Linked DNA regions of Homo sapiens. The protein of the gene in region 4 interacts with the protein of the main gene of each other region in a biochemical or structural test. Each region holds a gene or a part of one and is shown on either strand. Other genes may lie near its edges. The genes, in order: ABL2, BLK, PTPN11 and ERBB2.

The links.
Region 1: the proteins of ERBB2 (region 4) and ABL2 form a complex in vitro, tested with the Homo sapiens proteins (3 studies listed by BioGRID and IntAct, with this or other methods).
Region 2: the proteins of ERBB2 (region 4) and BLK form a complex in vitro, tested with the Homo sapiens proteins (2 studies listed by BioGRID and IntAct, with this or other methods).
Region 3: the proteins of ERBB2 (region 4) and PTPN11 form a complex in vitro, tested with the Homo sapiens proteins (2 studies listed by BioGRID and IntAct, with this or other methods).

What each region holds. Positions count from the first base shown.
Region 1 is NC_000001.11:179,226,307-179,234,682, forward strand, and holds the start of ABL2 (tyrosine-protein kinase ABL2), read right to left. Parts: upstream 3,372-8,376; 5' UTR 3,092-3,371; coding exon 2,935-3,091; intron 1-2,934. UniProt on the Homo sapiens protein: Non-receptor tyrosine-protein kinase that plays an ABL1-overlapping role in key processes linked to cell growth and survival such as cytoskeleton remodeling in response to extracellular stimuli, cell motility and adhesion and receptor endocytosis.
Region 2 is NC_000008.11:11,545,979-11,553,386, reverse strand, and holds part of BLK (tyrosine-protein kinase Blk), read right to left. Parts: intron 7,336-7,408; coding exon 7,284-7,335; intron 5,356-7,283; coding exon 5,262-5,355; intron 4,364-5,261; coding exon 4,265-4,363; intron 3,229-4,264; coding exon 3,125-3,228; intron 902-3,124; exon of another isoform or gene 1-901. UniProt on the Homo sapiens protein: Non-receptor tyrosine kinase involved in B-lymphocyte development, differentiation and signaling. B-cell receptor (BCR) signaling requires a tight regulation of several protein tyrosine kinases and phosphatases, and associated coreceptors.
Region 3 is NC_000012.12:112,484,941-112,492,348, reverse strand, and holds part of PTPN11 (tyrosine-protein phosphatase non-receptor type 11), read right to left. Parts: intron 5,887-7,408; coding exon of another isoform or gene 5,875-5,886; coding exon 5,720-5,874; coding exon of another isoform or gene 5,716-5,719; exon of another isoform or gene 5,426-5,715; intron 3,907-5,425; coding exon 3,839-3,906; intron 3,326-3,838; coding exon 3,174-3,325; intron 3,166-3,173; exon of another isoform or gene 2,361-3,165; intron 1,332-2,360; exon of another isoform or gene 925-1,331; intron 1-924. UniProt on the Homo sapiens protein: Acts downstream of various receptor and cytoplasmic protein tyrosine kinases to participate in the signal transduction from the cell surface to the nucleus. Positively regulates MAPK signal transduction pathway. Dephosphorylates GAB1, ARHGAP35 and EGFR.
Region 4 is NC_000017.11:39,695,549-39,703,236, reverse strand, and holds the start of ERBB2 (receptor tyrosine-protein kinase erbB-2 isoform a precursor), read right to left. Parts: upstream 3,174-7,688; 5' UTR 2,999-3,173; coding exon 2,926-2,998; intron 448-2,925; exon of another isoform or gene 323-447; intron 1-322. UniProt on the Homo sapiens protein: Protein tyrosine kinase that is part of several cell surface receptor complexes, but that apparently needs a coreceptor for ligand binding. Essential component of a neuregulin-receptor complex, although neuregulins do not interact with it alone.

The DNA.
Region 1 (8,376 bases), on a different chromosome or scaffold from region 4:
CTACTTTTTTTTTTTTTTTTTTTTTGAGACAGAGTCTCGCTCTGTCACCCAGGCTGGAGTGGCGCGATCTTGGCTCACTGCAACCTCCACCTCCCGGGTTCAAGCGATTCTCCTGTCTCAGCCTCCTGAGTAGCTAGGACTACAGGCGCGTGCCACCATGCCCAGCTAATTTTTCTATTTTTAGTACAGACGAGGTTTCACCATGTTGCTCAGGCTGGTCTCGAACTCCTGACCTCATGATCTGCCCACCTCGGCCTCCCACAGTGCTGGGATTACAGGCGTGAGCCACCGCACCTGGCCGAATTACTCCTGTTTTTAATAATAACAGTAGTATTAGTAATGGCAGCAGCTACACACATTTAGCTCATACTATGTGCCCAGCCACTATTCATTTAATACTAGGTACTATTATTATCACCACTTTACAAATGAAGAGTCCAAGACACAAAAAGTTAAATAACTTGTCCCAGGTCACAAAGCTCATAAGCAGCCAAGCAAGGTTTCAAATCCAGGAAAAATGGGTCCAGAGTTCATGCCCTTAACAAATACTCCAAAGTGATCTCTCTTCTTTCATCCTCTATCAAATCATAAAGTCCTTTAAGTTCCAAAGGGCAGGGACTCTGTTATGTTCACAGCAACATTCCCACAATCCAGTACATAACAGGTGCTCAAAAAAAACCCTTGTTTGTTGAATGAATGAAAGGACCCTTGAAATTACTCCTCCCATTTCCACTGCCACCACTCAAGGCCAGTCTTTCAGGTAAAGACTAGCCAATCAGGTAAATGGATATAAACTTCTCTGCCAGATTTTCCATAACCCAGTCCCATCCAGCCTATCAAAATTTTCTTTCTACTGCTTCTTAATTAGAATCATAAAATCTTAAAACCAGAAAGTATCTTAGAGATCATCCAGTCCAACCTCCTCACTTTACAGATAAAGAAACCCAAAGATGGTGACTAAAATCACCCAGGCAGGTGGAGCCAGAACCAGAACTTGACTCTTCCAATTTTTGCTCTATGATCTTTTTCTTCCAACTCATAATGATGCTTCATTCCTGACAGCTGTCTCCTCACTAGCCCATCAACAAATTATATCTATTCCCATGTTCCCGTTCAAGTTGTTTCTTCTACCCAAATTGTTCTCCCTCTCCATAGATCCAAATCCTCAAAATGTCTTCCTATTCCATTCTTCATGACTTCCTCTTTCTTGGAAAATCTTACATACCGAATAAGATAGTAAAGCAAGAGGATCACCATTGCCTACTAGGCCAAGTTTAATGCATAGTAACACTTCCCACAAAGTGAAGCTTACTTGGATGATTTCTTCCCTGTAAACTACTAATCCATTCTTCCATCCTGTGTTTTAGGAAGTGATTTTAATAAAGATTAGCTCATATATCACCTTCATAAAGTGTTCATATACCCGAAAGAGACACTCAAGCACATCTTCAATAGGAGACATGTGGCCAGGCGCAGTGCCTCACGCCTGTAATCCCAGCACTTTGGGAGGCTGTGGCGGGTGGATCATGAGGTCAGGCGTTCGAGACCAGCCTGGCCAACATAGAGAAACCCCACCCTACTAAAAACACAAAAAATTAGCCGGGTGTGGTGGCGGGCGCCTGTAATCCCAGCTACTCCGAGGCTGAGGCAGGAGAATCGCTTGAACCTGGGAGGCAGAGGTTGCAGTGAGCCAAGATCACGCCACTGCACTCCAGCCTGGGCGACAGAATGAGACTCCGTCTCCAAAAAAAAAAAAAAAAAAAAAAGAGTTTGGGCCAGGAACGGTGGTGGCTCACACCCGTAATCCCAGCACTTTGAGAGGCCAAGGCAGGCAGATTACCTGATGTCAGGAGTATATGACAAAATCCCACCACCACCAAAAATACAAAAATTAGCCGGGCGTGGTGGTGCACACCTGCAGTTCCAGCTACTCGGGAGGCTGAGGCAGGAGAATCACTTGAACCCGGGAGGCAGAGATTGCAGTGAGCCGACATCCCGCCATTGCACTCCATCATGGGGACCAAAGCGAGACTCTGTCTCAAAAAAAACAAAAACAAAAACAAAACAAAAAAACAAGACAAAAAAAGTTTGGAGACAACTATTCTAAAAATACATTGACAATGAGATCAAAATAATAGGTTTCAGACTACAGGGAGCATACATACATGTATGTATGTATATGGGCACACGCACACACTACAAAGGAAAACTTGTTCATATCCTGACTGACGTCCTAACCATGCCCACCAACCTCTAGCCCTTGCCAGCAATCTCAGAATTGTGTGTCCTACTCTGAAGCATAGTACAGAGGCTTTGGCAAAGCCTTTCATTTCTAGTAAAAACGAAATACAAAACAAAATAAACCACAAAAGCATGTCAAAAGTGATAAGATGATGCTAACTTCATCTTCCCTACAGAAAAGCATTTGACACTGTCCACAGTTCACTATCCTGACACTGCTCATCACCTAACGTAAACACATACCTTGTACTCCACAATCTCCTGAAATTCAGTTCCCATTTCCCAATCCCTTAGGATACAACCCATTTCCCCTTCACTAACGACGGGTTTATGCTCCCACCTCTGGGACTGAGCTAATACTGCCCTTCATCCTTCCCTCTCCTGAAGCTGCCATTCACTTTCTTTCTGCAGCCGCATAGTCCCGTCCCAGAGTAGAGGACAGACCATCCAGGGTCCCCAAACCCACTTCTCTTTCCTTCTCCGCCCCCGGGATCTGCCAGCCAGGCTAGAGACGCGAGGGGGGAGGGGTGTGACTCGCCTCCCAGGACTGGACCAGATGGCAGCGGATTCCGCCCCCACTCTCAGGCACCTTCCACCCTCCGACCCCTCGGGCAGCCCGTCCGCCACCCACCCCGCCCCGACCCCACCCCCGGCCTCCCCCACGCTCTCATGCCGGCTCCCAGACACACTCACCATGCTGGGTGAAGATATTGAAGCCGGTCTCTGTGGTGCGCCCCGCCGGGTCCCGCCTGCGGCCGGAGGGCCTGGCTGCACTGCTGCCCCGGATCCCGCGGGGCTGAGGCTGCTGGAGCCCCGGAGCTTCCCCGACGCGGCCCACCTGCTGCCCCATCCCTGCTCTCGCGTACTCCCGCGCCCCCGCCGACCCCTGGTCACATTCCTCCTCGGCTCCGGCCTCGGGCTCCTGGCGCTGCTCCGGTCTCTCCCTCCCAGCCCAGGCCCTGGCCCTGAGTGGCTGGGCCACCGGCGGCTCCGCACCCGGCCTCCTCACGGCAGCCGCCGCGCTGCCTCCAGGCGACTCACAGATTCTGCTTTTCCCTCCTCCTGTCGCGGCTCCGCGCCCCCAACGCCGCCGCCGCCGCCGCCGCCACCGCCGCCGCCATCTTTAAACCACCGAGCGCTGGGAAAGCGTGGGACAGAGCGTCTCCCGCCCCCCGCCCCCCGCCCCCCGCCCGCCAGTCACCTCCGCCGCGGGGAAGGAGGGCTTCCCGGCTGCCGCCCCGCCCTGCCGCGCCGCGCCCCCCGTCCCCGCCCCCGCCTCCTCGCAGGGTGGGTCCCCCAGTGCCCACCTCATTTGCCGGCCACCGCTGCTTGAGGTCTTTCGTCCTCCGCGTCCTGTCGCCGCACCTCGGCGTCCCCCCCCTCAATCCGCCTCAGCCGACCCCCTCCCGCGTTCGGCTCCACACGCTACCGCCTTTGGGGTTGGTCGGTCTCCGGCCTTCCCCATCCCACCTCCACCTGTCAAATGAGTGAGTCGAGGGCTCAGTGCCACCGCGTGCGCAGCTCAGGTGCAGGCACAGGTGGGGCAGAAAAGCACAAGGCATTTATTTGGTCCTTGCCATCCAGTTAAGGAGCTCTAAAATACCCAGGGGGATCTCTTTTAAACACCCTTGTCAGCAGCAGGCCTCCAGTAAAAATTAAAATGGTATAAAATTTACAAGAAGAGAGTAAAATGCTACCTTATTTGATTTTAATTTTTGGAGATTATTTCATGATGTTAAATCGCACTGGCCTGGATTGTGTGCCTTCTATAGTCTCATTGGGGACGCAATTGTAGCCCCATTCCTCATATTATATTACCATGAATTCCTCTTGAACTCCTTTACCATCTCACCATATGTGAGTTTCTGTTTCCTTACAATGCCTGACAGTAAAGTTAATCTTCCCACTGGCATCCTTTATACACTGTGCACGTGGTCAGGTCTTCTTTTGATGACAAAGGAGAAAAAATATATATCTTTGACCCTGTTTCTGAGTCAGAACTTACTCATTTTAGCTTATGCAGTCTAAAGAGAGTGAATGAGGCAGAAAAGAAGCGTTTTATACATACACATATACTATATACAATTGACTCGCCATCCCCCTCTCCCACTGTGTTTACTTGCATCTTAATTCAATTTTTTTTAATTCTCAAATCTTGATCATTCTCCTGTTATTCTTTTGGCTTCCCAATTTGCTTTATAAAAAGTATCAGTTAATGGAGGTACTACACTGAAATTTTGCTTAAATTAGACAGGACGGGAGCCACTGCAAAGAAGGAACAAAACAACCACTGGAAATGTAGGGTTGGGAGAAGAGGTGGATGAAGCTCTCCTTTGCATATCTTTCCTGAACCAGGTTGACCTTAGATGAACCATCCACTGACGTAGATATTGCCTGTTGTAAAAGCACTATGAAATTATTCCATTGCCATCTAGGGTGTAGCCAGAAATAACTGAAATTAACTCCAAAATGGGAACGGAAACACTATGTGTAAACACTGGATAAAATATGAACTTTCCATTTGGATTAAAGTTTCCCTGTGTTTAAAATACCTGTCTTTTCTTCTAATTCCCAGTGTTTGCAACTACTGAAAAAAATTCATTCGAAAGGGATAAAGATGTCACAGAGCCGGAATTTGGTTTACTGTTTGATTTTTATTATGGGAGAAAATTTTAATTTGGGGATAATGGTTTGGTTTCTCTGCTAATTCATGCATACTATATAAAGATAGATGAATATATGGGTTGAACATCTCAAATCTGAAAATCCAAAATGCTGCAAAATTCGAAATTTTTTGAGCACCAATATGATGCCAGAGGTGGAACATTTCACGTAAGTACTTAACATAAACTTTGTTTCATGCACAAAATTTTTAAAATATTGTATTAAATTGCATTCAAGCTATGTGTATAAAGGTGTATATGAAACATAAATGAATTTTGTGTTTAGACTTGGGTCGCATGCCCAAGATATCTCATTATGTGTGTGTAAATATTCCCAAATCTGAAACACTTGTGGTCCGAACATTTCTGATAAGGGCTGCTCAGCCTGCAGTAGAGTGCAGTGGCTAAGGGCAGGGGCTCTGAAGCCAGACTGCTTGGGTTCATAACTTGGCCCTGATACTTATGGACTATTTGATCTGGGCAAAGTACATAACCTTTTTGTGTCTCAGTACATTATCTGTAAACTGATGATGATAACAAATAGTATCTACCTTATAGGAATATTGTGAAAATTAAATTAGTCAATATATATGTATAGTACTTAAAACAGTATTTGGCATATAACTGGTGTCATATATGCATATACTATTAATACAAAAAACATAATGGTTTTAGGTTTTACAAGCCTAACTTTTTCAAATTTTATATATATATATATATATAAATTTGAGCAATGGCCAGAGGCCAGCATAAAAGATCAGACACATCACCAACAGCAGTAAGGCGTGCTGAAGACACAGATACTCTTCATCCTCATCATCCTTATCACAGGAGCAACACCACTCTCTCCAGAAGGAAGGAGCTTGTGAGTAATGCCTCACCAATCCCTGACTTCACCAGTCTGCATTTCTAGGCTATTGCCATACTTTTTACAGTTTTACAGTATCTCTCATATCTACCTCTTCCCTTCATCTATATAAACAGCGTTATGTAAGACACAGTGTTAGCTTAGGCATCTCTGCGCTGGTTTCTCCCGCTACTAGCCCTTTCTTCCTAGAGATTCCTCACCTTTAGCACCAAGCAACTCACTCAAAGAAACTGCTTCTCTCATTGCTTTGACCACACTCTCCCTCTCATTCATTACGTACAAAGTCTTAAGTCTAAAATTTTCACCTAATGGGCCGGGCACAGTGGCTCATGTTTGTAATCCCAGCACTTTGGGAGGCCAAGGTGGGCGGATCACTTGAGGTCAGGAGTTTAAGACCAGTCAGGCCAATATGGTGAAACCCCGTCTCTACTAAAAATGCAAAAACTAGCCAATCGTGGGGGCGCGTGCCTGTAATCCCAGCTACTGGGGAACCTGAGGCAGGCGAATTGCTTGAGCCCAGGAGGCGGAAGTTGCAGTGACAGGAGATTGCGCCACTGCACCCCAGCCTAGGTGACAGAGGGAGTCTCTGTCTCAAAAATAAATAAATAAATAAATAAATAAACAAAATAAACGTTTCACCTAGTGTTTCGAAGTTATTTTCCAGGATAACTGGATTATAATTGCCTAATGTTCTTCCATCTCCTGTTCCTCCAACCTCCACCTTTCCTATGGCAGGCATACATACTTTATCCAATTAGCCTATTTCTGAGATGTATCCCTTTTAGCTATGAGTTTTGCAATAATTATATTCTCCCTAATATAAGTCTCGAGTGACTCCCTTACAGGATTCTACTGTCCTCTTCAGTATTCTATTCAGATCCTGCCTCCTTGATAAGAGAACCTCAGACTTATTAATACAGACCTAACAGTTTCCTCGGACTCTATTCAGTACAGGCCTTAACCACAACTGGTAATAATTCTTTCGTTATAAAATTCGCTTACCTTCCTCTACATCCCTCAAATATGGTTTTTTGTTTTTTGTTTTTTGTTTTTGATATGGAGTCTCGCTCTGTCCCCCAGGCTGGAGTGCAGTGGCGCGATCTCGGCTCACTGCAAGCTCCGCCTCCCGGGTTCACACCATTCTCCTGCCTCAGCCTCCCGAGTAGCTGGGACTACAGGCGACCACCACTACACCCGGCTAATTTTTTGTTTTTTAGAAGAGATGGGATTTCACCGTGTTAGCCAGGATAGTCTCGATCTCCTGACCTTGTGATCCATCTGCCTTGGCCTCCCAAAGTGCTGGGATTACAGGCGTGAGCCACCGCACCCGGCTGTTTTGTTTTGACACATGACTCAAGTGTCATAGAGTTGGAAAGAAACTTAGAGGTCATGTAGGCTAATCTGGAATCCTCTCTGCAGTAATTCCAGTGAGGGTATCCATTTCTTTCAAAAGGTTCTAATTATTAAAACATACTTCCTGGGCCAGGCGCAGTGGCTCACGCCTGTAATCCCAGCACTTTGGGAGGCCAAAGTGGGCGGATCACAAGGTCAGGAGATCGAGACCATCCTGGCTAACATGGTGAAACCCCATCTCTACCAAAAATACAAAAAATTAGCCGGGCGTGGTGGCAGGCGCCTGTAATCCCAGCTACTCAGGAGGCTGATTCAGGAGAATGGCATGAACCCAGGAGGCGGAGCTTACAGTGAGCTGAGATCACACCATTGCACTCCAGCCTGGGTGACAGAGCCAGACTCAGTCTCAAAAAAAAAGTTCTTCCTAAAGATAAACTGAAAAATGTTCCCCTGAAACTTCCACCTGTTTCACCCCAGTTCTAATTCTACCATGTAGCTACACAGAACAAATATAATCTTTATTCTACATGAAATCTTTCACATATTTGAAAGCTATCATGTTTCCCCAAATCTTTTATTTTCTTGCATATATGCATGTTTATATAGTTATGTTTATCTATCTATATTTATCTACGTGGGCTGAAAATGTTTATGTAGATAAATTGAGAGAAAAAAATTTTGTTGTAATTTTACGTATAGCATTTTCCTTTTTCTTTTCTTTCTTTTTTTTTTTTTTGGAGACAGAATCTCACTCTGTTGCCCAGGCTGTAGTGCAGTGGCATGATCTCGGCTCACTGCAGCCTCCGCCTCCCAGGTTCTAGCGATTCTTCTGCCTCAGCCTCCTGAGTAGCTGAGATTACAGGCGTGTACCACCACACCTGGCTAATTTTTGTATTTTTAGTAGAGATGAGGTTTCACCATCTTGGCCAGGCTGGTCTTGAACTCCTCACCTCGTAATCCACCTGCCTTGGCCTCCCACAGTGCTGGGATTACAGGTGCGAGCCACCAGAGCCTGGCCAGCATTTTTCTTAAACTGTTTATGTACACAGTTCTTTGGACTTTGTTTATGTGATTTGTCTCTGCATTGTTGTATTAAATCTTTAAAGACCTATAGAGTGCCAAATACAGTTCCATTTACAGATTGACACTTTAAAAGTCTTTTTGGATGAGATAACGAGGAGGAGGAGGAGTTAGAAGATTCCTATCTGGCTGGCACAGAATTAGTCATTCTCTTTGAAAGTAGGGAGACAG
Region 2 (7,408 bases), on a different chromosome or scaffold from region 4:
GGATCCCCTGCCTCTGTGGTATGTCTGGACTGCCCTGGGCAGGCAGGGCCTGGCTCTGAGATGAAGATTTCTCAGCACTGAAGGACCGCCTGCCTTTGAGCTGTGAAACTAGTCTATCCTCACATAGACACCAGTAAACTGAGGCTTGAGAGGCTCAAGGACACCCCGGAGGCCACGAAGGGTAGAACTCACTCCCCTGCTTCCATCCCTGTCTTGCATTCACTGCTGTGGCTCGGAGAAGCAGAGGGGTCTTGCTTTGGAGTTGTGTGTGTGTGTGCATATGTACGTGTAAGGTGTGTACATGTGTTGCACACGTGTTCATTGCATCTGTGCATATGTGCACATGTATATGTGTGCGTGTGTGTGTATATGTGCATGCGTGGACATGTGTATGTGTTTGCATGTGTATGTGTGCACACATGCCTGTGTATGCACATGTGTGTATATGTGTGCATTTGTGCATATGTGCATGTGTGTTCATGTGTGCATGTGTATGTGCGTGTGGTGGTGATGATGGTTGAACAGTCCTGCAGCCCTGGTCCCATATGGCCTATTCCCAGCTTGGACTGGCTTCCTGGGGTGGACATGGACAGGAAAAGATGCCAGACTCATAGAGAACCCCTTCTTCCTCCACACCAGATTGGGCAGGGGGTGGGGAGGCTTTCACCTTAGCAATAGGCAATGGTTGAAATATCATTTCCAGGGTGACATGACATGATGTTTGGGATTTACTTCGAAAGAACAGGGGTGGAGCGGGAGATACAGATGAAACAAGACTGGCTCAGTTGATAATTGTTGAAGCTGGCTGTTGGGTACCAGGGGTTCCACTAAACTATTTTCTCTACTTCTGTGTATGTTTGAAATGTCCTGGAACAACAATAAAACACTTATGTCATCTCCAGTGATTCCCAAATTATTTCTTGTACAGAGGTGCTCTGCCACAAAAATGAAATAGTGACAATATCCAATATGAATATAAATATAAAATGCATATATCTATGTGTATGTATATGTATGTATATGCATTCATTGGCATATTCCAAGAAATCCTGCACAGAGCACCCCAGCTTTCCAATGCACCCTTCCTGCTCCCCAACCTGGTCCTGCCCCTTTGTGGGGCACCAAGGCCTCATGATGTCCCCAGAGAATCACAGGGTGCTATGACAGCTTTTCATACTCTGGGTTTCCACTCTGGCTGCTGTTCTTGAGCCACAGATGGAACCAATGGACAGCCCAAGGGTGCTCCCACCAGGTGACAACTCTGTCCATTCTCATCGCCCCAACCACAGGGAACCAGACTCATATTCCAGACACTCTCTCTCCCTTTCCTCCTCTGATGTCACTGTCACCATCTCCTCTCCAGTTAAAATTGGCTACAAGGCTGTACCTGGTCCCTGTGGACAGCTTCCTGATGAGCAAAGCATTCTTCATACTGCCTGGGAAGCCCCTGGGTCACCCTAGCTTGCCACGTTGTAGAGCTTGGGAAGCCTCTCAGCCTCTTAGATGATGTGGTCACTGGTGCTTTGGGCTCTGATGCTTACTGTTGGCCCCCAGCAAGTCACTTCCTGTTTCAGGGACTCCCTTTCCTCATCTGTCAAGTGGATTAGTATCTTACAGACGAAAAGCTAGTGGCCAGTGAGCACCAGGGACCATAATAGGGTTCGGTGCAACACATGCATTAACAGCCCCAAACTGGAAACAACTCAATGCCCACAACATGAGAATGGCTAACTTGACTCTGGAATGGTCACACCCGGGATTCTGTATAGCAATGAACATGAACAGGCTCACCATCCTCAACCACATGAATGAATCTGTTACTGGTTGAATCATGTGCGCTCCCAATTCATATGTTAAAGTCCTAACCCTCGGTCCTGAGAATGTGGCTATATGTGGAGACAGAGCCTTTAAAGGGGTGATTAAGTTAAAATGAGGTCATATGGGTGGGCCCTAATCCAAATTGACAGGTGTCCTTACAAGAAGAGATTAGGACACAGACATGCATGGAGGGACGGCCACGTGAGGACACAGAGAAGACGGCCATCGGCAAGCCAAGGAGAGAGCTCCCGGGAGGAGCCAACGCTGCTGACACTTTGGTCGTGGACTTCCAGCCTCCAGAGCTGTGAGATAATAAGCTTCTGTGGTGGAAGCCACCCAGTCTGTGCCACTTTGTTACGGCAGCCCAGGAAACTAACATAGAATCCCACAAACACTGCTGAGTGACAGAAGCAAGACACACAGAAACAAAAACAGTGATTCTATCTACATCAAGCTGAAAAAACAGACAAGACATGGTGGCGAAACCACAGAGAAGAGCAAGGAAGGATTTCCATCCAAGTCAGGACAGCAGGTAGCTCTTGAGGGTGGGGGTTGAATCAGGAAGGAGCCCAAGTGGGGGAGTGAGGGGGCTCCTGGTGGTCTGGGATGCTCTTTCTCTTGGCTGTCATTACACAGGGATTTGTTTATTATTACCCTATATGATTTAGAATTACACATTCATACTTCATGCAAGCTTTATATGTGTTTTATATTTTACACCAAAAAAATTAAGAAGGAAAGAAAGCCAAATGACAGAGAAAGAGAGAAAACCCCTGAGGGTGATGGCAGCTGTTTTGCTCAGTCAGTGGATTTGAACTCATGAGTGTCTAGACTGGCATGGGCTCCCCTCAATTACCACCCTCTTCTCTTACATCACGGCACAGGCCACTTCCTAACATATGCTACCTGCAGCCTCTGGCTGAGATGATCTTGAAGGATTCTTTGAGCTCCCCCTAATCCTTGATTCCAAAGAGGCTGGTGGTTAAGGGCTCAGGGTTCCCCCTTCCCTGGCCCCCACTGGCCTCGGTGTTCCTGCTGACTGGGCAGCAGGGCCAGTCTGGCGTGGGACCACCCCTGTCCACCCGGCTTCCTGTGCCCAGGTGGTTTCCAGCCGGGACAGGGAGGACTGTGTGGACAGCCCCCATGTCAACTCCCGGGCAGGGCCTGAATTGGGAGGGACACAAGCCCGGAAGCTGCTGGTTCTCCTGGCAGTCACCCCTTCCCCTCTCACTCCAGGGCCAGGCCTCTGGAGGCGCCTTCCCGGGAGGAGCAGGGCAAGGAAGGCAGGCAAAGCCACCAAGCCTACCTTTGTTGGTTTCACTCTCTCTGATAAGAAAGGAGCCGGCCTTGTTGATTGGAGCAAGAAGCTGCCTCTCAGCCTCCTTCCGACCCTGTGATCTAAAGAACCACCTGGAAAACGGCAGGAACAGGTGAAACTCAGAGCGACCCTGCTCCTCGGAGTATTCCCACACAGCCTCCCTCCTGCACTGCCTGTCCCCAAGAAATAAAAATCTAGCATTTCTGGTCCCAGTCGGCCCTGAGCTGCTGCTCCTCACACCGTGATGGAGTCAGTGCCCTCTGCCCCGCTGCCCTTCCAGTTCCGCTTCCTGTCAGCCCTGGACTCACTGTTTTCCTAGAACGAAACAAGAACACTAGTTGGTTGACCTTTGTTAATTTTGCTTTGGAAAAATGCCCCTGATCACTCTCTCCAAAGCACAGCTGCGTATCACAGGCACGTGCCTCCTCCTTGCAGTCTGAGATCTGAATTAGGCAAACTGCCGAGACTCTCTGAGCAGGGACCCCAGTATGTCCCCTTCGGTATGGGGTTGTTCTGTGCAGGACAGCCCCACGGTTCCCCACACTGTTCCAGGGAAAGAAGCGGGGCCCACAGTGTCCAGAGAAGACTCGTTGCTGGGCCTCAGTCCTCAGGCAGAGCTAGTCCCTGTGAGCAGATTCGTGGGGGCTCTGGCTGGCCGAGTCCGAAATTCCCAGTGCCATGGGGACATGGGAGAAGATGGGGGCTGGGGGATTAGAAGATTGGGAGTATTAATCAGTTCTGAACAACGCCACCCTCCTGGGAGCCCCCGAGGGCTGAGCCCTGAGTCCTGCCCATGGAGGCTGTAGGGGAGGGGATGCTGGTCATAGTGCCTCCCTGGTAGCCTTCGAGGCCATCAGACACTGGGGCCGGTTCCATCCAGGGGAGCCAGGAGAAGGACCGCTCTTGTTTAGCTGGGAAGAGCGGCTTGCTCAGTGTCACACAGCAGTCTGAATGTCGTCTGGAGCCAGCAGAGAGGCCTTTCCCAGCAGAGCTCATTTCCTGTCCCCTCTTTGCTAGTGCCTGCAGGCTCCCTGGTCAGTCCCACTCTGGCCCTGCCCTGCCTAACAGCCCAGGGAGCAGAAACAGTGACTGCATCTTGGCTCGAGGGGGGTTCCCGTGCCCACCTACCTTTCCATTTCCAGGCTCTCCACTCGGGCCACAAAGTTACTGGGCACATAGCCTTCTCTTCCTGTGACGAGTGACCTGGCCAGCCACCAGTCTCCAGTTCTAATGGGAGCAGGGGAAACAGAGATGAGATCATGGCCCCTGTAGGCCCGTCACTGGGCAGCTCTCAGGCCTCCTCAAAGTCATCTCTCCCTGGAGGGCAGAGAATCCGCAGGGGTAGAGAGTACGGCAGGCAGGAAGGGGCTTGTGCCCACTGCTCAGTGGTACAGTGGCTATCCGGGCAAGTTCTAGGGGGAAGAGCTTATCTACACAGCCTGACCAGCCAAGAGGGCACAAGGATCCAGCCAGCAGCCTTCCTCTTGATGAATGGGACGTGTTCAGAGCTTGGTGAGGGACTGGGGACAGGCTTGAGAAAAACACGGTTGGCGTGGACTGTATAGAATCAGCAGTCAGGACCTTCGTGAGCTTGGCTCAGGGCCTTTGGAGAACTTCAAGAACCAAATCAGACCCTCAGAGCTCCACAGGACAAGCCTGGCCACTGAGAGAGAGCTGACCTAGAAGGAGTTTCTGAGAAGGACATGGGAAATGAGCTAAAGCGGGATTGGTGTGTGTCATCAGTGTGGGCTCCTGTCTTGAAAAGGAGACAAATATGGACACAACTGGCTTAAATGCAAGGCTTTCACGGAACAGCCAGACCAGCCTGCATAAAGGACAAGGTCCACATGCCCAAAAGAGTCAGGAGGGCTGCATGGAGGCGGTGGCATGGAACGTGGACTTTGAAGGATGAGCAGGAGGTTGTGAATGGAAATTACTTCACCGGAAAGATTTTGGAGAGGAAGACAAAAGGGCCAAGTTCAAGAAAATGCTGGGGCCAGGGCTGGGGGCAGGGCGATGGAGAAGACTTCCAGGGTCAGCCATGGAGGATGTGGTGGGTGGAGAAAGGAGAGATGTGGGGGAGGGGGGTCCTGCAGGGACAGGGGATGGTGTCCTGGAACCTCACCCCTTCAGGACCTGTAGCTTCTCCCCCTTCAGCATCTGCAGGTCCCGATCATTCATAGCGGTGTAGTCATACAGAGCCACCACGAAATGCTTGTCTAAAATGAACAAGGGAGAGATGACCACCACTCAGGCCCACAAGCGGGAAGGTGGGGCTGGGGTGAGCCTGGCTACCAAGGAGGACAGGCTTCTGCTTGCCCACGATGGAAATGATGTTCTCACCCAGCACAGGCCCCCACCCCCAGCCCTGTGACCCCACCAGGGATGGGCTGCCCCCCAGAGCCCATCCTGTCCTCCGTTGTGGACCCACTAAGAAGCCCTATGACCTGGACAAGGCGTGTGTGAGGAAGCTGATGGCCAGAGGTCAGCCACAGGGAGGCAGCCACTGCCGGGCTGCTGGTGGCCTCAGGCCCACATTCGGACATAGTGCTGGGAGCCCTCATCTTCTTATTCTACACCTGCCCTCGGAGGCCCATAAGCCTCCTCTTATCCTTTTCCTCCTCTGCCCCGCCTGCCTCTATCCCCAGTAGGGGTGGTCTTGCCACGTGGCAGCTGGAGCCCTGGCCTCTCCACTGTCTGTGCCCAGAGCCCCAGCCACACTGTCTATGGCTGCCAGTGACCCTGCCGGGCCCCCCACCTTGCTGGCGGGCCCTGGATGGAAGGCAGGAAGAGGGCTCAGGAGCTTGGAGCACCATCTTCAAGTGAGCCCTGCTGTGACGCAGGCTCTCTGCACAGCTCTGGGAGCCACAGGACCCACCTGATGAAGGTCACCTGGAGAGCACTTAGCTTCCCCGGGTGGGGTGGCTCCGCTCTGTCACTGAGCTGAGTGTTGTGACCTCGGGCTGGTCACCTCTTCTCAGCAGGAAAGCGAGGGTCAGAATGGGTGACAGTGGTTCCCTGAAGTTTTAAGATTCAGGTTCTGCTCACAAGTGTGACAGATTCTGAGCTTTTCCAGGGAAGGGGTCGCATCTACCTGTTGTCACCCCTTCGCCATTCCTGGGACAGAGCTGGGCTCTGTGTGCTGAATGCCCAGTACACATCATATGAGCAGGTTAATGGGTGGGGCCCGGCTGGCCGAGGCATCCCTTCCCCATGCTGTGTGGACATGGATGATGAGGAGGCTGCGGGAAGTCACTTTGAAGGAGGCCACCCTCTTGGGAGTCCCCAGGGGTGGAGCCTCTGGCCCAGAAAGGCTGAGCTCATTCCCTACAGTACCCAGCAGGCCAGCCCACCAGAGCAGAAGTGGAGTCTAGGGGCCACGCACAGTGGCTCACGCCTGTAATCCCAGCACTTTGAGAGGCTGAGGCGGGCAGATCACCTGAGGTCAGGAGTTTAAGACCAATCTGGCCAACATGGTGAAACCCCCTCACTAGTAAAAACATAAAAATTAGCCCGGTGTGGTTGTGTGCACCTGTAATCCCAGCTACTTGGGAGGCTGAGGCAGGAGAATCTCTTGAACCCGGGAGGTGGAGGTTGCAGTGAGCTGAGGTTGGGTCACTGCACTGCAGCCTGGGTGACAAGAGCGAGACTCTGTCTCAAAAAAAACCAAGTGGAGTCTGGGGACCAGGTAGGGGCGTGGGTGGTTAGGTGGTCAGCAGCGGGACTCTCGAAGTGACTGGGAGCGGGAAACAAGAAGGTGCCCTCCACATAGAGCGGACAGGGGCTGGAGGCAAGGGCCTGGAGCCACTGGCCCAGCCCTTTGCGTTTGAGAGTTAGCATATTTTAAAACTTGGGTTTGATGATGCTGTGTGTCTTCCCTGGGACTCTTGTTTTTGTTCTTGTTTACAGTTTGTAAAGTCTTTCATGTTTTAAAAGTCCCACCCAGGCTCAGGCATACTGAAGAAACTTGTTCTTGGTTCCTGAAGAGACGCCCCAAGAGGCACAGAGCCGGGGCCTCTCTCAGCTTCCCCGTTTTCTCTTCTCCAGCCCTCAAGCTGCTCCTGACTCAACCTTTTTCCAACTCCACAAAGCTGCCACCTAGGGGAGAGGGCTGTGGAGCCTCAGCTTCCCAAACCACCCTTCTTACCTTCATCCAGGTGTTCATCGGGCGGTGGAGGAGTAAGGTGGTTGAAGACAACCTTGGGTAGAAAACACACACTTGAGTTATTTCAGTCCCTGCTGCGTGGGTGGGGCCTGGGGGTTGAGACTGCT
Region 3 (7,408 bases), on a different chromosome or scaffold from region 4:
GCCTGTAGTCCCAGCTACGTTTTGCTCAAGTAACTTTACGGTGGACAAATTTGACAGACACCACCTTATTCAAGTGATCAAAGTTAACACCACTAGTAATGAATCAGATCAACAGTGTGTACCTGATGTGATGTACTAAGAAGACTACAACAACATTTCTGTGACAGTCCTGCCAAAAATGCATGACTAGAATATAGTCAAGAGAAAACACTGGACAAATCCAAACTGAAAGGCATTCTGCTAAATAGCTGGCCTAAACTCTTCAAAAACATCCAGGTCATGAAAAATAAAGAATGACTGAGAAACTGTTCCAGATTAAAGAGACTAAACATACTAATAACTGGCCAGGTGTGGTGACTCACGCCTGTAATCCCAGCACTTTGGGAGGCCAAGGCGGGAGGGTCACTTGAGCCCAGGAGTTCAAGGCCAGCCGGGGCAACACGGCGAAGCTCCATCTCTACAAAAAATACAAAACTTAGCCAGGCATGGTGGTGCACACCTGTGGTCTCCAGCTACTCGAGAGGCTGAGGTGGGAGGATCACCTGAGCCCAAGGAGGTCAAGGCTGCCGTGAGCCATAATTGCACCACTGCACTCCAACCTGGGCAACAAAGTGAGACCCTGTCTCAAAAAAAGAGAAAAAAGATACATTATAGCCAAATGCACTGTGTGACCCTGGACCCATAAAAGATACTAGCAGGACAAAATTTGAAGATGGTCTGTAGGTTAGATAATAGTGTTATATCAATGTTAGTTTCCTGATTTTGATCACTGTATCAAATAATTGTGACATTGGTTATGTAAGAGAATGCCCTTATTTTTAGAAAATATACACATTTTAGAATGTGTAGGCTTAGATTATTCATTTTTTAAAATGAAATGATATTTAGAGACAAAGGGGTATAAATGTTTGTAACCAACAAACATTTTACTTTTTAAAATTTACATTTTTAATTTTAAACAGAGAGAATAAACGAATGATAAAGTTAAGTGTGCTAAAAAGTTAACAGTCAGGAAAGCTGGGTAAAGAAAATTCCACAGACTGCTTTTGCAAATTTGAGGGTTTTTTTTTTTTTTTCACTACTGTAGTTGGAAGTTAACAAAAAAGTCTACCTCCAAGGAACTGGCAGAGTGTGAGAACTGTTTATAAAAACTTGAGAATTTTCTCAATCTTGCTTCGTTTGCACTTTCCCCTGGATTCCCACATCTGATTTTATATTCTTCCTTCCTTGTGCTGTTTCTTCTCTTCCTTCTCCACAGCTCTTCACCCATCATTCCTTTTTTTCACTGATCCTTCTTTAGCAAATTCTTTCACTCCCAAAGGTCCTGAACACTTCATAATTTTAGAAATGACTGTATTTTAGAATAACCAATTATCCTGAATGAGTTTTGTTCTTTTGCTTCATTTATAAATCAGCTGGGTTTAATGTTATGTCTGCCATTTAAACTTTCTACTAAATTAAGTACTTCTTACTTTACCACAATCAGCCAGCAAGCCAGTTCCCAGATTGATTCAAACCACACAACGCAGAAAACTATATATTGCAGGATTTCATTTTTTAAAATAAATAATTGAAGCCTACACATTTTTAAAACCCAGAGGTCACTGGGCTCAGTGGCTCACACTTGTAATCCCAGCACTTTGGAAACCCAAAGTGGGAGGGTTGTTTGAGCCCAGGAGTTCAAGACTAGCCTGGGCAACACAGTGAGACCTTGTCTCTACAAAATAAAGATAAAAAAATTAGCCGGGCATGGAGCCACAAATTTGTAGTCCTAACTACTCAGAGAGGCTGAGGCAGAAGCACTGCTTGAGCCTAGGAATTCGAGACTAGCCTGGGCAACATGGCGAAACTGTGACACTACAAAAAATGCGAAAATTAGCTAGGTGTGGTGGCGCATGCCTATAGTCCCAGCTACTTGGGAGGCTGAGGTGGGAGGATCGCTTAAGCCTGGGAGATTGAGGCTGCAGTGAGCCATGATTACACCACTGCACTCCAGCCTGGGCAACAGAGAGAGACCTCTCTCTCAAAAAAAAAAAAAAAAAAAGACATCCCTGAACATGCTCCAACTTGTAGCAACTATGTTACATTCTCTTTGTATTTACTAGGAGATCCTTCTCTTTGGGCAACTTTTTGCCTAACTATTCTTGAGCCAAATTAAGTATAATGGAAGACAGATATAAAATAAAGTAACCGTCTAAATATTTCATATCAGTTAATACAAATTCAGATTTAAAGCACTGAGGTTCAAATTTTGACCTTACATTTCTATACATACACTGTTTCTGAAGATGTCTATGTACAATAAAACAATCCCGTATGTCTGTGCGGACTGAAAACCTACTAAACTAATTAGCAAGTACCTTCCTTTGGCCAACCAAACTTTGATAACGTGGCTGCTGTTCTGCTAGGCTAGAAATCTTTCAAATACTGGTGGCAGGTCCCATTCTGAAAAGAGCTCAGCATTTGGAGAAGCTGAGTTCTCTGGAAGGCAACGAGCAGAGTAATGCAGGCACTCGCCACTGATGTTTAGACACCACCCCATCTGCAGCATGGCAATGGGGTTGAGGGGTTGGGGAGAGAAGCACAGCCCCCAAAAGAGCAGCTCTCCTCATTTCCTTCATCTCAGCATATTCCTAATTAACTCAGCTTTGTGCCTGTTATGAATAGCTTCAGATGGAAAGGCTCCAATTCCACATTCCTCTTCATTATGCACAGCTTATTAAAATTGAAATTTCACTGTTTCCAACTCGACCAAATTAGTGGTTCAAACTGCCGTGCGCTATTAAGAGTGAGGCATTCGTTTTAAAGGATGGAATCAGGATAAACATGGCCTGGATCAAGGCTGGAACAGGCTAGAAACTTCAAGGCTTTGAGTTTTACGCTTGCCACATGAGCCTGAGAACATCAGAACCTTTCTGCATGGCAGTTCTTCAATCTGGCAGGCCAGGCTGATAGGATGGTGCCCTTCCCTAAGCTCCTCTGCAGTGAAAAATCAGAGCTGAGAAGTGGAGAATAATTGACAGTTTCCAGAGGCCCTTTTAGTTGGGAGTTTGTTTCCCATTCCGAAATCAAACAGTTGTCTATCAGAGCCTGTCCTCCTGCTCAAAAGGAGAGCGTATCCAAGAGGCCTAGCAAGAGAATGAGAATCCGCATGCCAGCCCTCAGGCTGGTACCTGCTCTTCTTCAATCCTGCGCTGTAGTGTTTCAATATAATGCTGGACCGCCATATAGATAAATCGGTACTGTGCTTCTGTCTGGACCATCCCTGACCTCTGAGACCGCACCATCTGGATGGTTTTGGGAACGTCAATATCGCAGTCAACACCTACGAAGGAAACATCATGAAGAATAAAGAGAAACTGCAGAGCCAGGATGAAGTTGTTTAATGCACAACTTTTAGTGGACTCAGAGACAATGCTAATTTAGTCTTTGCTGTTTTAACTGAGCATGTTGCAATGGCTACAGTGTTGAACTTCTGACCAATACCAATGATCCCAGAAGACTACATAAATAACGAAGTGGCAGAAGTCAGGATTCCCTCACTTGCCAACAAATCACCCCATACTGTAAACAAGGTCAGGTGGCTGGATAGAGACCACCACTGTGTATGCAACAAAAGGCCATGGCAGTGGGTTCTGCAGCTCCTAGACTTCATTTTATGCCAAAAGCTCAAATAGTGTCACTTCTGTTCTCAGGCAGACACACTGAAGTCTTCAGCCCAGATTTTTGTGAAAGAATTTTCCCATTCAACCTCTCTTCCCCAGACTGTTTTCGTGAGCACTTTCCTTCCATAAACTAAAAACAGAAACTGTCGCTTCTTGCCCACCAGATGACCCACCTTTCTCTCTGATGATGTCAATAAGAATATCAATCACAATGAACGTCCCTGTCCGGCCAATTCCAGCACTGCGGGCAGAAGGACAAAAAGCAGGGACAACAGAATCATTCATGGGGGTTTCAGACTCAAAACCAAGCCATTAATATCAACAGAAACAATGTCTACTCTTTGGAGCTATTTATAAAATTGTCTATTTATGTTTGAAAATATGTTGGCAAAAAGCATAGGGCTTTGGAGTCAGCCCAAACCTGCTCTTGGAGTTCAGCTTCTCCAGTACAACGTGCCTGAGGTAAGTCCCTTAACCTCTCTGACCCTTAATTTCTGCATCTGTGAAATGGGGACAACAGCACATACCATACAGAGTGCTGGTTGGACAGAATGAAACAGGAATCATATACAAAAAAATACATCAAAATTACTGAAAGAGGGCCGGGCGCAGTGGCTCTCACCTATAATACCAGCACTTTGGGAGGCCGAGGCAGGAGGATCACTTGGGGCCAGGAGTTCCAGACCAGCCTGGCCAACATAGCAAAACCTCGTCTCTACTAAAAACACAAAAATTAGCCAGGCATGTTGTCACGTACCAGTAATCCCAGCTACTCGGGAGGCTGAGACATGAGAATTGCTTGAACCCAGAAAGCAGAGGTTGCAGTGAGCTAAGATCGCTCAATTGCACTCTAGCCTGGGTGACAGAGTGAGACTCTGTCTCAAAAAATAATAATAATAAAGTTATTGAAATAGAAGAAGTAAATAATTTTAAAAATTAAAAACAAAACAAAACAAAAAACATTGTGCTCAGAGGCTGGCTCAATAAATGGTAGCTTCTTTAACAACTGGACAAATAAACACTTTCACATATATCTACTTGCCCAAGAAATGAATGAGATTTAGGAAACCCAATATTCCCCAGTATAATCATGAAGCCCAAACTGGAGAATCAGCAGCCCACAGACTCATTACAGAGGTCACAGCACAGCTTCCATCAAAGGCCTTGGTGGAAAAGCAGCTGGAATCTTGTGAAGCAAACAAATATAGTGTTAGGGGAGAAATATATTTATGGTAGAAGAGAACAGAATGGGCCGGGCATGGTAGCTCATACCTGTAATCCCAGCACTTTGGAAGGACAAGGCAGGTGGATCACCTGAGGTCAAGGGTTCGAGACCAGCCTGGCCAACATGACAAAACCTTGTCTCTATTAAAATACAAAAATTAGCCGGGCGTAGTGTCAGATGCCTGTAATCCCAGCTACTTGGGAGGCTGAGGCAGGAGAATGGCCTGAACCCGGGAGGCGGAGGTTGCAGTGAGCCAAGATGGCACCACTGCACTCTAGCCTGGGCAACAAAACAAGACTCTGTCTCAAAAACGAAAAAAAAAAAAGAGAGAGAGAGAGAGAGAACAGAATCACAATCAAAGAGATGAATCATAGAAGAGTAGAAGAAAAGAAGGAAAAAGAGAACCAAGCAAAAATGACTTAAGGGATCCTCAAGAGTCAGGCCTATTTCCACCACACCCCCACCACCTCAATACCTACAAAGCAGTCAACAGCTACAAAGCAAACATCATGAAGAATAAGGAGAAACTGCAGAGCCAGGATGAAGTTGTTTAATGCACAACTTCTGGTGGACTCAGAGATAATGCTGACTTAGTCTTTGCTGTTTTAACTGAGCATGTTGCCATGGCCATGGCCAATGGCAGTGCTGTAGGGTCTAGGAGAAATATGCCTTGGGATCAAAATGTCCCTCAATGCAGTTGCTCTATGCCTCAAACAGATATTAAATTCTTCCTACAGTTAAAGAGCTAGGAGTGGGTAGGTAAAAGCAAGCCCTGGGCGCTAGGAGACAGGGACAGGCTGTGGCCTAGAGGGGCAGCAGGAGCTGTCACCTGCAGTGCACCACGACCGGCCCTGCATCCATGATGCTCTCCTGCTTATGGTGCACCTCCTCCAGGAAGTCCAGCACGCCCCCAGGGTCGCTGGGCACGCCGTGGTCCGGCCAGGTCCGAAAGTGGTATTGCCAGACCGTTCTCTCCGTATTCCCCTGGAGTAGAGCCAAGAAAAACCAGAAAAGAATTAAATAAATCAAGAGGTTGAGGAATCACCCGGTTCTAAGCTTTCCTAAATCCAATGGAGAGGAAGAGAATCTCCCCAGGTTCCACTGAAAGGTCCTCTTCGTGAGGTTCCCAGAACTCGTCTCCTTTTGGGCAATCCTGGAGGCAACTCTTTGCCTCTGTCATAAGAACCAAGACGTCTGGCATGGCAATTTGTTCTTTCAGGTAACTATACCCTGAATCATCTCTCTGAATTACCAGCGACAGGTAACATCCCTATTCCCCTGCATCCCTGTGGCACTCAGCTCTGGAGGCAACTGAAACCTCTAGGGATCCAGGTCTCTCCTCCCAGCAGAAGAGGAAGCAGATGGGGAAACAGGCATTCACTTAAGACATTCATTCCTCTTTGTTATTTTTTTGATACTCAACCTTCCCCACCATATAAACACAGACTATAGTATCATTCTTTTTTTTTTTTTTTTCCAAGACAGAGTCTTACTCTGTTGCCCAGGCTGGAGTGCAGTGGCGTGATCTTGGCTCACTGCAACCTCTGCCTCCCGGGTTCAAGCCATTCTCCTGCCTCAGCCTCCCAAGTAGCTGGGATTACAGGCACACATCACCATGCCTGGCTAATTTTTGTATTTTTAGTAGCGATGGGGTTTCTTTCGCCATATTGGCCAGGCTGGTTGCAAACTCCTGACCTCAGGTGATCTGCCTGCCTCGACCTCCCAAAGTGCTGGGATTACAGGCGTGAGCCACCCAGCCTGGCCAGTATTGTTCTATTTTAAACTTATATTTAATGCAAAGCAGATAAGAAAACAGGCTTTGCTATCAGATGACTAGATTTAGGCTCCAATTCCAGGCACTCACACTCACGTGGCCCTTGGGTATCTCTAAACCTCAATTTCTTCATTTTGCAAAATGCAAATAATAATCTCTTTCTCTCTATCATAATGCAATTTTAAGGACTCAGTGAGCTCGCTGAAATACTCAGCCTCTGCCCAGCAAATAGGAAGAGACTCAGCACATTATGGCTATTTTGAGGATAATGATAATTAATAAAGATCAACAATGGCACCAAGGCTACAGAAAACCAAAAAGTATCATGTTTCTGGGTCTATCCAGATGACGTAATTGTAGCAGCACCATTCATTCCTACATCTTCTTCCTATATATGTAGAGACAATCTAAGCTAAGTGACTTTTTTTTTTGAGACAGAGTCTCACTCTGTCATCCAGGCTGGTGCACAGTGACCTGATCACAGCTCACTGCAACCTACGCCTCCCCGATTCAAGCAATTCTTGGGCCTCAGACTCGACTCCCGAGTAGCTGGGACTACAGGCATGTACCACATCCAGCTAATTTTAGTAGAGAAGGAGTTTCGCCATGTTGGCCAGGCTGGTCTTGTACTCCTGACCTCAAGTAATCCACCCACTTCAGCCTCCCAAAGTGCAGGGATTACAGGCATGAGCCACTTTGCCCAGCCTTAAGTGACATTTTTAAAAGGGATGTAAAAGGACACTT
Region 4 (7,688 bases):
CACGCTGACACTTCAGCTGTCTCTCTCACCCACAGCCCTGTGTGTCAACGTGGCCTCTGTCCCCTCCTGCCCGCAGCCCCCTGTCATGCTGGTAGGGCCCAAAAGGAAGACAGGCATTGGCTGGACAGGAAGGGAGAGGACTCTGAAGTCAAGAGGGAACCTCAGGGCCCCCAGCTCAGCTCCACTTTCTACAGCCTAGAGAAGTGGATGGAAAGGTCATTCGCCTGAACAAGAGGAGCGCTTCTCCTCCCATCTGGCCACCTGCCTGCCCCTAAGGCTTTGTTCAACCCATTATTGTTGGCTGGAATAAGACTCTAACCACCTCTTAATGCCTCCTCTTCAGAGTCCAAAAATTCCCTGGACATTACTGGGTAGCTGGGAGCCTTGGATAAGTTGCTTCATTTCTCTGAACTTCCATTTTCTCATCTGTGCACCTACTTCACAGGACTGTCACAGAGATTAAATGAAAGCATGGATAAAAACCTAGCATATAGGAAGTACACCGTACATTTCTTAAAAGTTAAGACAAGACAGGTTCATACAGCAGGAATATGGGTAATCCCAAACCACGAGAAAATTAAACATGCTTTGTGTTTGACTTTGGAATGCCACGTATTTTTTCTTTTTACATTTGATCCCTATCTTTTCAATTGTTTTTTTCTTGACAAATAAAATGAGTACTTTCCCCAAGTATAGTAAAGAGAGGAGGCTGTTGGAAGAATCATACTGGAATTAAAATATGAAGGAGTTCTGCAAGATTAAAAGGATGTATTTGCTGCAATTTGTAAAACCCATACCTCTAAGAAAGGATTTCAGAAAAATCCTGACCCCTCTGGGGCTCCCCCTAGGCCTCCCCTTCCCCCACATTCCTGCCCCAGACCTCACCCCTTGGGTAAAATCTGGGTGCTGGAGGCAGCTGGGTGGTATACTTTTTTTCTGAAACGGAGTCTCACACTGTCACCCAGGCTGGAGAGCATTTGCAATCACAGCTCACTGCAAGCCTCAACTTCCTGGGCTCAGGTGATCCTCCTGCCTCAGCCTCCGGAGTAGCTGGGACTACAGGCACGTGTAATCACATCCAACTAATTTTTGTATTTTTTGTACAGAGTTTTGCCTTGTTGCCCAGGCTGTGCAATGACTTTTTAACTAACTCCTGCACAACACAATCAATAGTGCAGGTTGAGGGGTGAGGACATGAGGAGGCCCCATCCAGAGAACCCAGCCCTCAAATCCAGCTCTGCAGCAACTGCCATTCCCTGATCAACTCCCAGCCCAAGGTGAGGAAGGGCAGCAGCTCAGCCTGACAGCTCAGTATGGCCTCACCCTTCTCATCAGAAGATGAGAGGTGAAGATGCTTGTCTGGGAAACAGGGAGGGCAAGGATGTACTCCCTGGAAGAGAGGAACCTTCTTCCTCAGCAAGAAGGCGTGGCCATAGAAGGCTACCTCCCTCTGTTTATGGCAGATCTGGCCCAGCACCTTAAGGGAGTTCCTGCAGAGGACAGAGTTCAGCCTGTGTCCCCAAGTCAGCAGAGAGACTGCTGTTTGGCAACACAAAGCCCAGACACACAAATACAAAGACCACACAACTGAGGAACACCCTGGCGTAGACCTGCAGAGATAACACGGCCATGCACTCACTCACAGAGGGCCCCTCGGGCAACACACAGCCACGATGACACCCACTCCCTCCCCAGACCCTCTGACCTATGGAGACCACCCACGACTCCCAGAACACTTTCATTTTGTCTCCCCTGCAGCCCAGTGACTCAGGGAGCAGTGTCCCTCATTGCTCCAGGTGCACTCATCCATATAGCGATTTCGAATGCATGGTTGGGGGTCGCACTGCCTGGGGTCCCATCTTGACCCCACCACTTACTAGCTGCTACTCAACCTCTGGACTGCTACTCAGTCCAGAATGCTGGCAGAACTTCCACTATAGGGGTGTTCTAGGATTAAAGGAGAATGCATGCAAAACACCACAAACAGTTCCTGGCAGAGTATACCTGGCCCAGGCTATATGTTAGCTTTTATGATTAATGCACACAGGTGGACAGATGGGTCAGGATACACACTGCCCCCACTCACCCTTCCCCACGCACAGCACCAAGGAAAAGGCAGCAGAACAACGCAGCCCTCCCTAGGCTCCCATCTGGCCTTATTTCTTAGCTTCCTTCTCTGGGAACTCTCCCACTTTACACCCCAAGAAACCCACCCCCACCCCTCCATGGTCCACGCGCTCCAAAAGTCACAGAGCACAGTCCCTAAGCTGGCCCCAAGAATCTGTTCAAAGCAAACGTCTCCCCCGCCCCCAACCCAGACCCCAGCAAGAGGCCACCCTCCGGGCCACCCTTTCCTCCCCGGCTCTGGTTGGGACAGGTTGCTATGCCACCCTCCACTCCACCACACACACACACACCCGACCCCGCCAGAAGCAGGAGCAACCAAACCAAAATCGTCTGAAGGGGAGCGGGGAGGGGCTGGAGGAGGGGCAGGGCAGAGGACCCCCCCAAGGAATCCAGCCCAGGCCAGTCCGGAGGCGGAGGCTGCCAACTGGAAAGGCTTTGAGAAAGCTTGAGGGGGCTCAAGAAGGGGGGAAACGCGCGCGCGCGCTCTACGCAATACACCCTTTGCGGGAAAACTTTCTGAACAATTTCAGAGAACTTCTTTGACAAGTTCCCGGAGCCCCTCGGAGCCTGGAAAGCGCCAGTCTCTTGGATGGGCCATCTCGAGCCGCTGCCGTGTAACTGCCCCCTCCCGCCCGAGGGCCCCAGGGCCCGGCTGCCCTGAGCGTCTCGACTGTCCACAACTTCGGGATAGGAGAGCTCGTCCGGGCCCCTCTGGCCCCGCCGGCCGCGGGACCTCGGCGGGGCATCCACAGGGCAGGGTCCCGCCGCTGCTCCGTCCCCTCCCCACACCAGACCCACCTTGGGTGCTCGCGGCTCCGGGGGGCAAGAGGGCGAGGAGGAGCCCCCAGCGGCACAAGGCCGCCAGCTCCATGGTGCTCACTGCGGCTCCGGCCCCATGGCTCCGGCTGGACCCGGCTGGGAGGGCGCGGGGCGCGGGGTGCTGCGAGGGGTGGGGGCCGGGCGCGCGGCGCAGTAAAGGGCCCCGTGGGAAGGGGCGCGCGGCTGCCCGGGGGGCTCCCCTGGTTTCTCCGGTCCCAATGGAGGGGAATCTCAGCTTCACAACTTCATTCTTATACTTCCTCAAGCAGCCCTCCTCCTCCACCTCCTCCTTCTCCTGTGATTGGGAGCAAGCGCGCTCCCAGCTCGCCCCCTCCAACTGCATTCCAACAAGTCTGGGAGTGGCAACTCCCAGCTTCACTTTCTCCCTCTCTTCGCGCAGGCCTGGGTGCGTCCCTCCTAGCGCCGGGACGCCTGGGTTGCCTGCAGCCGTTCTCACACTTTTCCTCGGAGAATCCCTAAATGCAGAGGCTGGTGACTCTGCCCCCTCCCCCGGAGTCCGGGATAAATTCCCTAGGCTGCCACTCTTAACACCCTTTTAAGTCTCAGGTTTTATCTTAAACTTTCCTGGGGAGCTTGCATCCTACTCCATCCCAAGCCTATTTGTTTTAATATCAAATAATGGTTTTCCCACCACATCCTCTAGTAAAATTGATAGTCAAGGAGGGGGATGTGTTGTGTTTACCTTGTGGCTTCCAGGACCCCCGGGGCATATCTTCTGGAATCTTTGAAGTATCTGAAAAGCATGATCTTAAGAGGGTCTACAAATTTGGGAGGAGACAGTCACATCGAAAGGACTTTTTTTTTTTTTTAAACGAACTTTTGCTCTTGTTGCCCAGGCTGGAGAGCAATGGCGCGATCTCTGCTCACCACAACCTCTGCCTCCCTGGTTCAAGTGATTCTCCTGCCTCAGCCTCCCGAGCAGCTGGGATTACAGGCATGTGCCACCATGACCAGCTAATTTTTTGTATTTTTAGTAAAGACAGGGTTTCTCCACGTTGGTGAGGCTGGTCTTGAACTCCCAACCTCAGGTGATCCTCCCGCCTCAGCCTCCCAAAGTGCTGGAATTACAACCACGAGCAACTGCACCCAGCCCAAAAAGACTTCTATCTCAATTCTTCAAAATGCACCCTTCTTGCTTATTTAAGGAGGCACCCAGCACCCAATGCATTCAAGGTTTCTTCTTTGCCCCTTGCCTTCTATTAGCCTGCTTAATTCCACTTCTCAACCACATTCTATTTGGAGCCCCTGACCCTATTCCTTAGGCCTAGTGGTAGGGGTGGGGATGGAAGGAAGACTTTTTTTTTTTTTTTTAATTTCAACAAGATATTGCATGGGACATATTTATACTAACAAATTATTCATTGTTTATCTGAAATTCAAATTTAACTGGGCCTCCTTATTTTTATGTGCTAAATTTGGCAGTTCTAGTTGGAATGCCCCAGCCAAGAATGCAGCTATACTGGTCAAGAAGGGATCAAAGGCACCTATCAGGGACTGGAGAATGAAGGACACCAGCATCTCTTTCTCTCTTCCCTCCCCCCCATCTCCCACACCTCTTTACAGGTATACACTTGCATTTCTAAACTTGCTTCCATGTGCTGAGCACACTTAAAGCAGGCACCTCTTGTGGGACAGGTTGCTATGCCATCCTAGGGAGTTGAGAAACAGGGGCCTCTGGGACCAAGAGGACCTGGGTTCAAATCTTGAATCTGGCCAGTCGCGGTGGCTCACACCTGTAATTCCAGCACTTTGGGAGGCCGAGGCAGGCAGATCACGAGGTCAGGAGATCGAGACCATCCTGGCTAACACGGTGAAACCCTGTCTCTGCTAAAAATACAAAAAATTAGCCAGGTGTGGTGGCGGGTGCCTGTAGTCCCAGCTACTCAGGAGGCTGAGGCAGGAGAATGGCGTGAACCTGGGAGGCAGAGCTTGCAGTGAGCTGAGATTGCGCCTCTGCACTCCAGCCTGGGAGACAGAGTGAGACTCCGTGTCAAAAAAAAAAAAAAAAATCTTGACTCTATTCCATATCAGTCATGTCACCTTGGGCAAGTGACTGAGCATCTCTGGTCTCAGTTGGCTCATCTGTAAAACAGCATCTGACATACTATGCTGGGGTTAAAGGAGATAATGCTCTGGAAGCACTCAGCGCAATACTTGGCACATAATAATTGCTCAATAAATGGTCCCAGATTTAGTTATACTGGGGCAGATCTAGGTTTTGTGGGGCCTGAAGCTTATATAATTTGGGAAACTCTCTTTAAGAAAGTAATACAAAGTTGGCCGAGTATGGCGGCTCATGCCTGTAATCCCAGCACTTTGGGAGGCCAAGACAGGCAGATCACGAGGTCAGGAGTTCGAGACCAGCCTGGCCAACATGACAAAACCCCATCTCTACTAAAAGTACAAAAATTAACTAGGTGTGGTGGCAGGCACCTGTAATCCCAGCTACTCGGGAGGCTGAGGCAGGAGAATTGCTTGAACTCAGAGGGCAGAGGTTGCAGTGAGCTGAGATCTTGCCACTGCACTCCAGCCTGGGTGACAGAGTAAGACTCCATTGAAAGAAAGAAAGAGAGCAAGAGAGAGAAAGGAATTGAACAGAAAAAGACCCTAGCACGGCTGGGTGCGGTGGCTCATGCCTGTAATTGCAGCACTTTGGGAGGCCAAGGCAGGTGGATCACCTGAGGTCGGGAGTTTGGTACCAGCCTGACCAACATGGAGAAACCCTGTCTCTACTAAAAACACAAAATTAGCCGGGCATGGTGGCGCATGCCTGTAATCCCAGCTACTCGGGAAGGCTGAGGCAGGTGAATCGCTTGAACCTGGGAAGCGGAGGTTGCGGTGAGCCAAGATCGCGCCATTGTACTCCAGCCTGGGCAACAAGAGCGAAACTCTGTCTCAAAAAAAAAAAAAAAAAACAAAACAAAAAAACAACCCTAGCACATTCATATAGTAAGGATAAGGTGGAGTTTTGTACAGGTATCCAGAGTGATAATGTAAAATTAACTTATTCCTTGGACCGCTGTCACAAACATTCGAGAAATATTGCTGTGTATGGAACACAGCAGCCCTTCTGGATGGCCATCAATATCCCTATTTTCTCTTGAGCTGGTGTTAGGGTTAGGGTGAGGATCAGGGGAACTGAGGTAAGCAATTTGCCCAGGATGTCTTAGGGCTAGAGAGAAAAGTTGGGCATGTATCAAAACTGACCCCTTACTCTCACCCCATCATCCAGCCCAGGACCTGGTCAACCTGCCTCTCAGTCCTGCAGCTTACAGCCCTGCGGGAAGAGGATGCGCTGACCTGGCTCCAGGAGTCACTGGTTCATCACACCACACCTTGGAGGGCTTGCACCTGGATGAGTGTGCAGGCAGCCTTAGAGGCCATCGGGATGTTAGGATCAGGGTTAGAGGTGTCCTTTCTCCCCAGGCCCCACCCCTGCCCTGCTGTTGTGTCCGGAAAGGTTAGTCCAGTCAGGAAAGCTACTGTGGACGCCATGCTTCATTGGACCCTACTCTGTGCCACTCTGACCTACAGCCACGTTCCTCAGAACACTGAGTCCCCAAGACTCCAGAGGAGGCAGGTGTTATCATTCCCCATTTTGCAGAAGAGGAACCTTGAGCCTTGAGATTCCACGAGCTAAAGGAACTTTCCCAAGGTCACAGAGCTGAGCTGGGAACTGAGCCATGGCAGATTTGGCTTCACCCATTACCCTCAAGAGCCCCAGTCAAGGGTACCAAGAGGGGAGACAGAGGAAAGAAGTCCAGGTAACTGTAGGTCCCTCCCTCTACAAAGATCCTGCTTCCCCCCTTCACTCTCCACCCCCCCGCCCAAGCAAACCCATCCTCTCTGCATCCCAAATCCCAGGAAGAAACCCGGACTGGCAGACAATGCCCAGTCCCGGTGGGCGGTAGAGAGGGTGGAGCAAGCTGGAGAGGGGGCTGGAGTGGGGATGGGGGGAGGAGCTGGGGTCAGAACTCACGCCCTGGGGAGGAGGCTCGAGAGGGGCCGAGCCTCTGAAAAAGAATGAGCCCATTCAGAGCTGGGAAGCCAGAGGAAAAAACCTCGTCTGGTGTCTGACAAGAGGAGAGGAAGGGGGGCAGGGGTGGGCGCTGCTGATTCGATTTCCTCCTTAACTGTCCCTCCAGCAGGGCCTGGCAGGAGAGCCCAGGAAAGAGGATGTCTGAGGGACAAAGACAGCGAGGGGGACCCTCAGGGAAGGGAAAGGGGTGCTGGTGAGAGGGGTCTAGCTAGGGGGCTGGGGAGAGGGAGTGGGAACAGAGTGGGGCTGACTGCGGGACAGAGGGCAGCAAACTCAGATCAGGGCAGATGCGTGTGTTTTGCCCAAGACCCCAGCCTGTGGGCAGTGGAGTGACCACTGACACTGAAGAGGCAGGACAGGGCTCTAGCTTCCGAGGGTGACCTCTAAGTCAACAGGCTGGGGCTGCAACCAGCGGCCTGTGAAATGCCAGTCAATCATTGACCAGCCATGGAGACTGGGGGGCACAGGAGACGTGTGTGTGTGTGTGTGTGTGTGTGTGTGTGTGTGTGTGTGTGTGTGTGTGTGTATGCATGCACCAAAGTCTCCTCCCTCTACCTACTTCACCAGCCAGCTTGGGGTCAGAGGACTGAAAACAAACAGAAATCGGGAGGAGTCGTCTGGTCCACAGTCCGATGTCCAGGCCACAAACTGAGGCCTACCCCACAGTGCCTTGAGGCTGAGG